Linked DNA regions of Homo sapiens: region 2 is linked to region 1. Evidence: fine-mapped expression QTL. Tissue or cell type: whole blood. Region 1 holds a variant in brackets; the other region holds the start of a gene. All regions are shown on one strand. Distances are from middle to middle.

The links. PIP is the estimated chance that this variant, and not a neighbour inherited with it, causes the effect.
Region 2: it holds the start of LINC02019, and the variant in region 1 is fine-mapped to the expression of LINC02019 in whole blood (TOPMed, PIP 0.98).

What each region holds. Positions count from the first base shown.
Region 1 is chr3:50,646,007-50,651,199 of GRCh38, forward strand. MAPKAPK3 (MAPK activated protein kinase 3) reads left to right here. Exons shown (of 11, transcript NM_001243925.2): 8 at 134-258; 9 at 734-819; 10 at 1,117-1,197; 11 at 1,888-3,285. The coding sequence ends at 2,040. Among named protein-coding and RNA genes, the nearest start is that of LINC02019, 21 kb to the right of the region's middle. RefSeq lists enhancers at 1,072-1,571, 3,063-3,616, 5,072-5,193. The variant G/T (reference allele first, on the strand shown) is at 2,253.
Region 2 is chr3:50,667,049-50,672,176 of GRCh38, forward strand. It overlaps LINC02019 (long intergenic non-protein coding RNA 2019), which reads left to right and starts at 2,391. Exons shown (of 2, transcript NR_183733.1): 1 at 2,391-4,128; 2 at 4,323-5,003.

The DNA.
Region 1 (5,193 bases):
GGGAGTCCGGAGGGCTGGTATTATTGCTATGGTGTCTGGTTGTCTGTCTCCCCAGTCAGGGGCTTTTGAGGGGAAATGGGTCCACCCTGGCACTGCTCCCACCCTATGCCAAATGACTTACCCCTTCCCCCAGCCTTTGTGGCTTCCCACCCTTCTACTCCAACACGGGCCAGGCCATCTCCCCGGGGATGAAGAGGAGGATTCGCCTGGGCCAGTACGGCTTCCCCAATCCTGAGTGGTCAGAAGTCTCTGAGGATGGTGAGTGAACCTCTCTGTCCCAGCCTGACTCACCTGGCCCCTGCGGCTTTCATTCTGGGAAACATCACTTTGGTGTCAAACTGACCTGTGTTCAAATCTTGGCTCCCCCTCTTTCCAGCTATGGGACCCTAGGCAAGTCCCCTAACCTTCTTGAGCCTCAGTTTCTACATCTGCCAAACAGGCTCAAAACTTGCCTCCTCAAAACTCCCTCTAACTCCTATTCCTCATTCATATTTTCCCCTTTGAGGACCACAAACAAGGCTGCCCTGTATGAGTTATCTACTGCTGCTTAACCAATTATCCTGAACACTTAGTGTTTCAAAACAAGAAATAGTTGTTAGCTCACTCTTTCTGTGGGTTGGGAATTTGGGAGCACATGCAGCCCCTGCCCCAGCAGAGCTTGTGGTCTGTGGGGAAGGGTGGAGGGGCTGGCTCTGCAATCTCATCTCTCCCCTCTCTTCCCTGGCCCCCCTAGCCAAGCAGCTGATCCGCCTCCTGTTGAAGACAGACCCCACAGAGAGGCTGACCATCACTCAGTTCATGAACCACCCCTGGATCAACGTGAGCCCCTCCTCCTCCCATGGCAGGCAGGGTGTCCAACAGGAGTGGGGCTGCCGGGCAGGAGGGTGGTGGCTCTGCTTTGAGGCCCCAGTGCAGGGCTGGAATGGGCCCATGCACACAGGTAGATACTAGGGCCTCACCTACAACCTGGCTTTGTCACTGCCCTAGTGAGGCTCCTTCCCCACCCTGAGCCTTGGTTTTTCCATCTGAGTCTGGGAGAAGAGGATGGAGTAGGGGGAACCAGTGCTGTCCCAGGTGCCTCCAGTTTCTAATCCACGGGCGTGGGGCTCCTTCCAGCAATCGATGGTAGTGCCACAGACCCCACTCCACACGGCCCGAGTGCTGCAGGAGGACAAAGACCACTGGGACGAAGTCAAGGTGGGTGGGCTCTGCCTCAGTCTCAATACAGGTGCCAGGATTTGGGCAAAAGGGACTTCAGGGGGGTGGCTACCCAGGGTCTGGGGTCTTTGGCCCCTTTCTATACCTGGAGCACAGGGTGTCAGTGACTGTCGCAGTGGTCCAACCATGGCACTCCAAGGATTGGGCCTCACTACGCCATTCAGTGTGGTGCTCCTGGCTCACTTCCTCAATGAAACGGGGCTTTGGTACCAAGCTTGGATGATGACCTCTCTTATAACCAACAACATTTGGGAGGGTGGTCAGCCTGGTTTAGACCCAGCAGAGGCCACGTTTGAACATATGGAGTAGCAGCTCCAGTGGCACAATCTCCAGGCCCCAGTGCGCTGGTTGCCCAGCGAGATGGCATTCTCTGCAGGTCTTGTGGTTCTGTGGTGGAACTGGTTTAGTTCACTATCCCACTTACCCTTGGTGTGGTCCGAGGGAGTAACTCTCCTTTTGTGCCTTAGTGAATAAGCTCAGTGTCTACCACAGAGGACGGTAGTGAGGATCATGTGATGCAAAGGGCTTGGCCCAGTGCTGGGCACACAGTGGGCACAGAGGCAGCACAGGCTGTCACTGACATTAAGGGGCTGCCCAGGCAGGGGGGTGATGGTTCCTAAGGTCAGTACATCCTGACCTCTTAGTGCCCACCATCCTGTCTGTCCCCAGGAGGAGATGACCAGTGCCTTGGCCACTATGCGGGTAGACTACGACCAGGTGAAGATCAAGGACCTGAAGACCTCTAACAACCGGCTCCTCAACAAGAGGAGAAAAAAGCAGGCAGGCAGCTCCTCTGCCTCACAGGGCTGCAACAACCAGTAGCTCATGGGGCCTTGGAGGAGCCTGGCCTCTCAGCCTGCATAACAGACTGAAATGTGCTCAGGCCCTGGCCAGGAGGGCCCAGGGTCATTCTTTTAACAAAAGGATTATTTTGTTGTGTTTTAATTTGTCACTCGGAACTTCAGGATGGAGGACCCTGACCCTAAACCTCCTTCAGATCTCTGGCCCAGGCTCAAGCCCTAGAGATGGGCAGG[G/T]CCTAGGGGCTGGGAGCTGCCTGCTGCCATAGCAGCACCTTTAGCTAGGTTGGCCCGAGTGAGGCCTCTGTGCTGTCCTGCCCTGGTGCATGGCCTTAGCTTTCTAGGCCACTGGGAGTTGTGGCTGGGCTTCCCATCTTCCACAGAGACATCTCCCTGTGGGATGGGCAGATGGGCCTGGCCTTGAGAAAGGCATTGGCCATTGGTTGCCATGGTGACCAGGGACCACGTTGCTGCCTGTGAATGCTGAGTGAGCGAGTAAGGGAGGAGGGGCGATTGAGGGTTCACCTCTGCCTTGGGGAGGCTGATTTCTCACACACTGGCTGGCCCTCTCATTCTCACTCCTCCTTGGGCCCTGAGGCTGCTGGATCCGGTCTGCCTGCCTCCCTGTGCAGTCCAGCCCTGCCTTGCTGCAGCCCCAGCCCAGATGGCACTCAGCGCTCTCCCCTGAGGGAGTCCCTGGGCCTAGCCATCCCCTCACTATTCCCGACCCAAAGGGTGACTTTTCATCTGAACTTAAGGTGGGAGATATTTTTAACTTTTTTCCACTTTGGAAAATGTCACTGTGACAAAAGCCAGCATACTTTCCCTGCACCCATCTGCTCACCAGATCTCAGGCAGGAAAGCCCCTCTCTGTTGAAGTCAGGGGCTATCTTTTGGTATACTTGTGTGAAAGTGGCTGGTTGGGAGCAGAGCTAAGTGGCTTCCCATTAACCTGAGGTCTCTTTCTTTACTCTGGGTCAGACCTGAGGTTGGGGAAGGCGACTGAGCCATGCTCAGAATGTCTGGTCCTGGCTTGGGCCTGAGTAGGGCAGAGAGGGCCTTTCCTGGCTGATCAGAGCTTACCAGCCCCACCCCACCATGGTAGCCTTAGGGTGCTGAGTGCCTGATACTGCCTGACAAGTGCCTGACACGCAGCCTAGTTCCTTCCTGGCCCCTCTCTCACTGGCTGGGAAACCCTAGACCATGTCAGATAGGACAACACTGCTGGGTTTTACATCCAGATAGTAATAAACACCATTTCATCATTTTCTCTTGGCTCCTGGGTTTACTCTTTGTCTACAGGGGTGGACAAAGGTGGCCCAAGGGCAGCTTCTCAGACCCACTAGTGATTTCACCCCAGCTGGAGGGGGTGCCTCAGGCCTGATAAGCATGCCATGCTAACTCCAAGGCCAGAGTCCTCGCCAGGCCTAGAAAGGTCAGAAGAGCTGAGGGATGGCAGCTGCCACATGCCCCCAGCTCTGTGCTGCCCCTGTGCAGTGTGTGTGACACCTACCCCCGGTCCTGTGTGTGCCAGCATCTGCCCAGAGTGGCCACCCCCAGCTGTGTGCCAGCCTGCTGAAGGGCGGGCAGAGTGCCTGCTGCAGCGCTGAGCTATTTTCAGAAACTGCCAGATTTCATTTGGCAGTGAGAATATCGAGGAGGGGAGGGGGCGGCATGCTGCAAGACTGTCTTTTGACTACTCCAGTAAGAGAGCACTCTCACCCCTCCGGAGCCCTTGTGGGTAGCTTCAAGGAGGGCCCTAACTGTGGCATTTCTCTCCCAGCTCCTATCTTGAGAAACCTCCCAGTTTTCCAAGAGCTCATCTGCTGCCTGCAGCGCTCTCTCCTCCACCCCCACTTCCTTCAGGGCGTGGGGGAGGGTGCAGAGATGCTGGAAGGCAGGGGACAGGCAAACACGCCTGAGATGTTCTGCTGCTTCCCAGCCTGGTGACCTTGGGAGCTTTCTTGGCCTCAGTTTCCTCAGCTGTGTCCTGGCGATGATAATGCCCATCTCATGGAGTCATGTGGGGGATTTGAGCAGATGATGTGTGTGAAGTACTTAGTGAGGTGCCAGGTGCGTGGCTCATGCCCCACACTCATTAGCTACTCTAACATCCTTAGTCATCAGGAAGGAGAGAAGTATCTAGAGTTATATCTAGAGTATCTAGAAGTCTCTAGAAGAAAAAGCAGCCCCAAGTCTGCCTCAGGAAGGAGAGAATATCTAGAGTATCTAGAAGTCTCTAGAAGAAAAAGCAACCCCAAATCTACCTCAGGAACTTTCTATCCAGACAATCAGGGCTTCCTCACCCATGGGGTTTCATTTCCAAGGGCCTGCTCCCCAGAGCAGCATCATGTGGGCCTCCTGGGCTTTGTTTCCAGTACTGGGCTTCCAGGAGGGTAGCCAGATAAATTCAAGAGACTCCATGGAGCCTGTGGTTCAGCCCAGCCTTCCTAGTATACCCTACATTTGGAGGAATGCTGGCCAGATGCAAAGGTAGATGTAGTCCATCTAGTCTCAAAGCTGTGGAGGCACAGATGGCCTTCCTTGCTTGGCTGCCAAGCATCCAGTGTACCTGAGATGCTGTGCTGGGTGCAAGGAAGGCTGCAGTGAGAACTTCAGACAGGGAGTTCACCTCAAGGTGTTTACATTCATGCGGGAGAAGGTGAAAACATCACATGTTGAAAAATGTTAAATTGGCCGGGCGTGGTGACTCACGCCTGTAATCCCAGCACTTTGGGAGGCCGAGGCGGGCAGATCACAGAGTCAGGAGATCAAGACCATCCTGGCCAACATGGTGAAACCCCATCTCCACTAAAATATAAAAAGTTAGCTGGGCGTTGTGGCAGGTGCCTGTAATCCCAGCTACTCGCGAGGCTGAGGCATGAGAATCACTTGAACCTGGGAGGCGGAGGTTGCAGTGAGCCGAGATTACGCCACTGCACTCCAGCCTGGCGACAGAGCAAAAGTCCATCTCAAAAAAAAAAAAAAAGTTTAATCAAGGTCTTGATATGATCTGTGATGGAAGAACATGGTTCCAGGAGAAGGAGGTGTCATGGGACAGTTTGAGCCAAAGAGAGAATATATGCATCCCAGTGCTGGGAAAGGTGCCTGATAGGATACAGGGTTGCAGGCAGAAGTGCAGGGACCAGGGCCTCAGGGACAGAGGGTCTCCCTGCTC
Region 2 (5,128 bases), 21 kb after region 1:
CAATAATGGGGAGAAATTCATGTTTGACCTTTAAGCAAGTGCAAAATGAAACAGATCTATGCCTTGGCAGCTGAGGACCCTGTGGCTCTAGGGAGAGTGGCTGTGAGCAGGGGGTTTGATGGTCATGGAGGAGAACTGATGCAATATGTAGTTCTCAGGGGTGCTGCATCATGGAAATAGCTTAGGGAAATCAATTTCTTTTGGTGTTAAATAGAGAGAAGAGGCTCATGCTGAGTTAAGTGCTGGCTGGTAAGAGGCAGACGCAGGAGGCCAGCCCAGCTGCGCAGGGGTGACCAAACCAGCTCTCGCAGGCTAGCTTGGAGGAGAAGCAGATTCCACAAATGCAAGGAGACCCAGCATTTCTGGGAAGCAATTTGAGCTGGTAGGAGGGGAGCAAGGTTCCAAAGTTTAGTGAGCATTTACCTTGTGCCGGGCTCTGTGTTGAGAACTTTGCAGGCATTATCCTCAGAAGCATCCCTGATGTAGAAGCCATTCTGATTCCCACCTGACAGGAAGAAACTCGGTTCAGAGGGATTAAGCTACTTGCCTGGGGTCACCCAGCTAGGAAGTATCTATCTGGAGCTGGATGTGAACCCAGCTCTGACTCCAGAGCTCTCAAGTTCTATTCCCTGTTGCTAGGTCACCTGAAACTTGAAAAAGCCTGAGGCTGTCAGTGGGCTGGAGTGACAGACTGGGGCTGGGACAGGCTGGGTGCAAGTGAGGTTTTGGCAGGGGCCACCCCATGATGAGTTCTCATGAAAAATTGCCATGGCTCCTGGAATGGCAGGTTTCTGAATCAGGATCACTTCTCTGATTGTTCCATAACTCATAACTGCATATTATAAATTCTGATCCATCACCCTCAATGCTAATTGGAGAACAGAATAGTCCCCATTTCTTAGAGTTGCTCTTCTTCAGTGGTGACAGAGTGAGTACTATTCCTGCTGCTCCCTGGGTCAGGGCCCTGCATGTTCCGAGTACAAGTCCTAAGGTGTGATCTTGTGAGAGAATTCTCTAAAGATTTCTCTTTTTTGGCATCCTGTATTAAATGTTCCTCAAGGAAGAGATTAGCAGTAATCCTTGATCAGATTCAGGGCCAATTGCTTGTTGGTGCCCCTGGCAACATTCTTTCCCTGGACCCTTAGCATGGGCAGGGGTGTGAGGGACAAGCAAGGTGTTGAGACCACAGCTAAAGCAGTGGGTCACAGAACCTGGAGAGTGGGCTGTGTAGGGAGGTAAGCTGTGCTTCCCCTCCAAACCCGGGAGATGAGCGCTGGAGCCTGGCACAGATGTGCCATCTTGAGAACAAAGGAAAGATTGGCTCAAGGAGGAGAAAGAAGCCTGGAGTGGTCCTGTGTGAGCAGTGGTCCTAGATGCTTCTGCACAGACTTTGTTGGTGCTCAGAGAATTGGGGAATGTGCAGTGGTGCCTCTGAGCCCAGGACTCAAGAGGATAGGCCTTTTCCTAGGCTGTTCCCTCAACAAGCCCAGGATCTCCTTGAGGGGAGATCATGTTCTTATTCATGTCTCTTATCTCTGCTTCTGACCCAAGGTCTGTCAATGGCTGGTTCCCTAATGTCATGGGACGTGGCAAGGCCCCAGCGGCTGCCCCTATCTTCCACTCTAGTCCGCACATTTCTCCCCACTCCCCACTTGCTCGCTCACACATCATGTCCTGGTCACACTGGCCTTTCCATTCCTTGGATACGTTAAGCTCCTTCTTCACCAGATTCACCTTTCCCAAATGCTGCTTGCTCTGTCTAGAACACTTTTCTCTTCTTTACTTGGCTAATTTGTATGTATTGTCAGCCTCCAGTTTAAATATCATTTCCTCCAGGAAGTCTTCCCTATTTGCAAACTAGGTCAGAATCCCTGGCTGAGGCTCCCTCTGTACATGTACCCTTTCTCTTTCTCTTCTTTCCTAGTACTTGTATCTCTCTTCGTTTTTTTTTTTTTTTTTTTTTTTTTTTGATGGTGTTTTGCTCTGTCACTCACGCTGGAGTGCAGTGGTGGTGCAGTCTTTGCTCACTGCAACCTCTGCCTCTGTCTCCCGGGTTCAAGTGATTCTACTGCTTCAGTCTACCGAGTAGCTGGGACTACAGGCACCCACCACCACACCTGGCTAATTTTTGTATTTTTAGTAGAGACAGGGTTTCGCCATGTTGGCCAGGCTGGTCTCGACCTCTTGGCCTCAAATGATCTGCCCGCCTCAGCCTCCCAAAGTGCTGGGATTTACAGGCGTGAGCCACTGCACCTGTCCTTGTGTCTCTCATTAGATATTTGCTTGTGTGATTATTGGTTCAGTGTCTCTTCTCCCAACTAGATGCTAAACTCCATGAAGAGAGGCTGGGTGCAGTGGCTCGCTGTTTTTTTTTTTTTTTTTTTTTTTTGCTCTGGACCTGGCCCATAATAGGTGCTCAATAAATTTTTGGTAAATAAATGATTCAAACTTTTTACACTTCAAGATAAAAAGTATGAAAAGCTGGTGGGGATAAAGTCTCGGTTCTTTTCCTAGCCCCAGTCCCATAGCATTTCAGAGATGGGGTAGGTGGTGCTACACTACTCAACAGGCTTTTGTTTTTTAACTCATTTAACTCAAGTGAGTTGGTGAAGGCATTCAATTGGTGGTTTTTTATGTATAGAGAAATTACCTCTGTCCTGATTTGGAATATCTGTGCTATTTTGGGCTGTTTTTCTCTTTTGGGCCTGTTTGTATTGTAGCAATAATTTCACCATTTGGCTATGCAGAGGCCCAATTAATATTACAAATGTGGTCCTATAAAATGTGCTTTTTGACATCAGAACGTTTTGTTGCTAATTACTCTCCAAGGTTTTTAATTTCAAGCCCTCCTTGGTGACTTAGTGCAGAAATTTAAGGACATAATTATTTCCCCCCAAGGGAAAAGAGATCTAGGTAATGCCAAGTTTCTATCTATTTGCCCTTCCTTCCAGGGGGTATCTTGTTTTTGATTCTATCTCCGCCCTTTTTCCTGGACAGAAAATAAACATGCAAACAAAAACCCTATTGGAACAAAAATATAAATTTCTGGAAAACATTAAAAGCACTCATTTACTAATGTATTAATTAAAACAATATTTACTGAGCACCTACTATGTGTCAGATGCTGCATGCTAGGCACTAAAAATAAAAAAGAATATAGCATGGTGCTGTCTCCAGGTAGCTCACAGTCAAGTGGGCAGCAAGCAAGTGCTGGGAATTCTCTGACACATCTGGAAACATCTGGGGGTGCTTCTCATGGTGGGGCTTATTCATTAGAGCCCATCCAGAAGTGCCACATCAGTCTCCACGAATTAAAATCAGGAGAGCTTTGGCCATTTCTCATTTGAAGACCTTGGCTAACTGAAAGAAATCCACATTTTAATAACATTTTGAATGGGTTGATAAAATAGGAACAGATGGTTAAAGTTTGTCATTTTAGGGAAAATAATGAAATATTGTACTGCTTAATCTGTCTTCCTGTCACACTCTTCCCTATCCCCTCCCTACTGAAAATATATTCAGATGCAACAAAACTTAAAGCAAAATACTAATATCTTCTTAGACACTTTAGGTCTCTTCACCTGAAAGTGCTCTAATTGTGTCAGCCATCTCTGTGTTAACTTTATCTTTTTTTTTTTTTCAGACACATTCTCACTTTGTCACCAGGCTGGAGTGCAGTGGAGCAATCTTGGTTCGCTGCAATCTCTGCTTCCTGGGTTCAAGTGATTCTCCTGTCTCAGCCTCCTAAGTAGCTGGGACTCCAGGCGCATACCACCATGACTGGCTAATTTTTGTATTTTTAGTAGAGACGGGGTTTCACCATGTTGGCCAGGCTGGTCTTGAACTTCTGGCCCCAAGTCATCTGCCTGCCTCAGCCTCCCAAAGTGCTGGGATTACAAGTGTGAGCCACTGTGTACAGCCTTTGTGTTAACTTACTTTGAATTAGCCCCTTATTCCAAAGCTGCCTCCTGAAAGGAGGCTTCCTAAAAGGTGTTGCTTTGGGGTAAATAAGAGGTGCTGGTGAAGTGAGACTAGCTTGCGCATCTCTCTGCCATGAAGGAAACTAGCTCCGCAGACGTTTTACTAACCACAGCAGACCCCCTCCTTGAGGAACCCAGAAGGGCAGAGGTAAGTTGGGTAACGTGTTCTTAAGTCTTCCATTTACCTGACCCTGGGGTTCATATGGGGATAAGCTCCAGCTGCTGACACCTTCTGATCAAGAGAAGGCAGAATGTCACCACTATCACCTGCACTTTGTTTGGATTTGCCTCTATACCCACTGCATTTCTCTGATGTTTTTTTCTACCATTCTGTTTGGACAGAGCATCAGATGAAATCAACTGCTGAGAGAGGGAAGTGAGTGCTGTGTTGGCACCGCTGCCAGAAACTCTTGAGAATGAGCATCGTGTGCCACTTATCCACTGCTTGCCGACTTCAGTAGCAAGAGCCTCCAGAATGCTCATGGATAAACATCATCTTTGTGGCCACACATTGTTTTATGAGCTGAGTCATCAGACTGGCTGGCTCCTTAAATGCTGCTGTGTGATTCTCTAGGCAGCAGAAAACAAGGAGAGAAGATATGAAGTGTATCTCATCGAGCTTTGTAGAGGGCCAGTATCATTCACCAAAGGTGATGGGGGATTTACCATTATGGAGTTTGCTTGTGATAAAAAATTATTGATCAACTTAAACTCTAAGAGAAAAAGATGATGCTGTCTGCATTTCTTGTAAATTATTTATAAAATTTGTTTGGGTATCGGCTATTTTTAACAGCCACCAGTCTTAACGAATTTCCTGCAGAAAACTTGATTCCTTCCTTGCTCATCGAGTTGCAATTTATCATCTAAGGTAATGAGTTAAACCCAAAAGTAACAGTGACATGATAAGTGAAACTGTTTGCATACTTTGTTTTTTAAATTGCTCTATCATGTTTATCTTTTTTATAGCTACTCAATAAGACATTGCAATGAATTTTTAATTAAAACCAATATGTCTATAACAAAGAAATTTAATTAATTAGAGTTTCTGAGTTTGCCGATTTGTGACTTGCTGAGGTAAACATCTCAGTTCTCTCTTCCAACCTATTTCATTATGGTCTCAGAAAACGTACAGGGAGATTATTCACCCA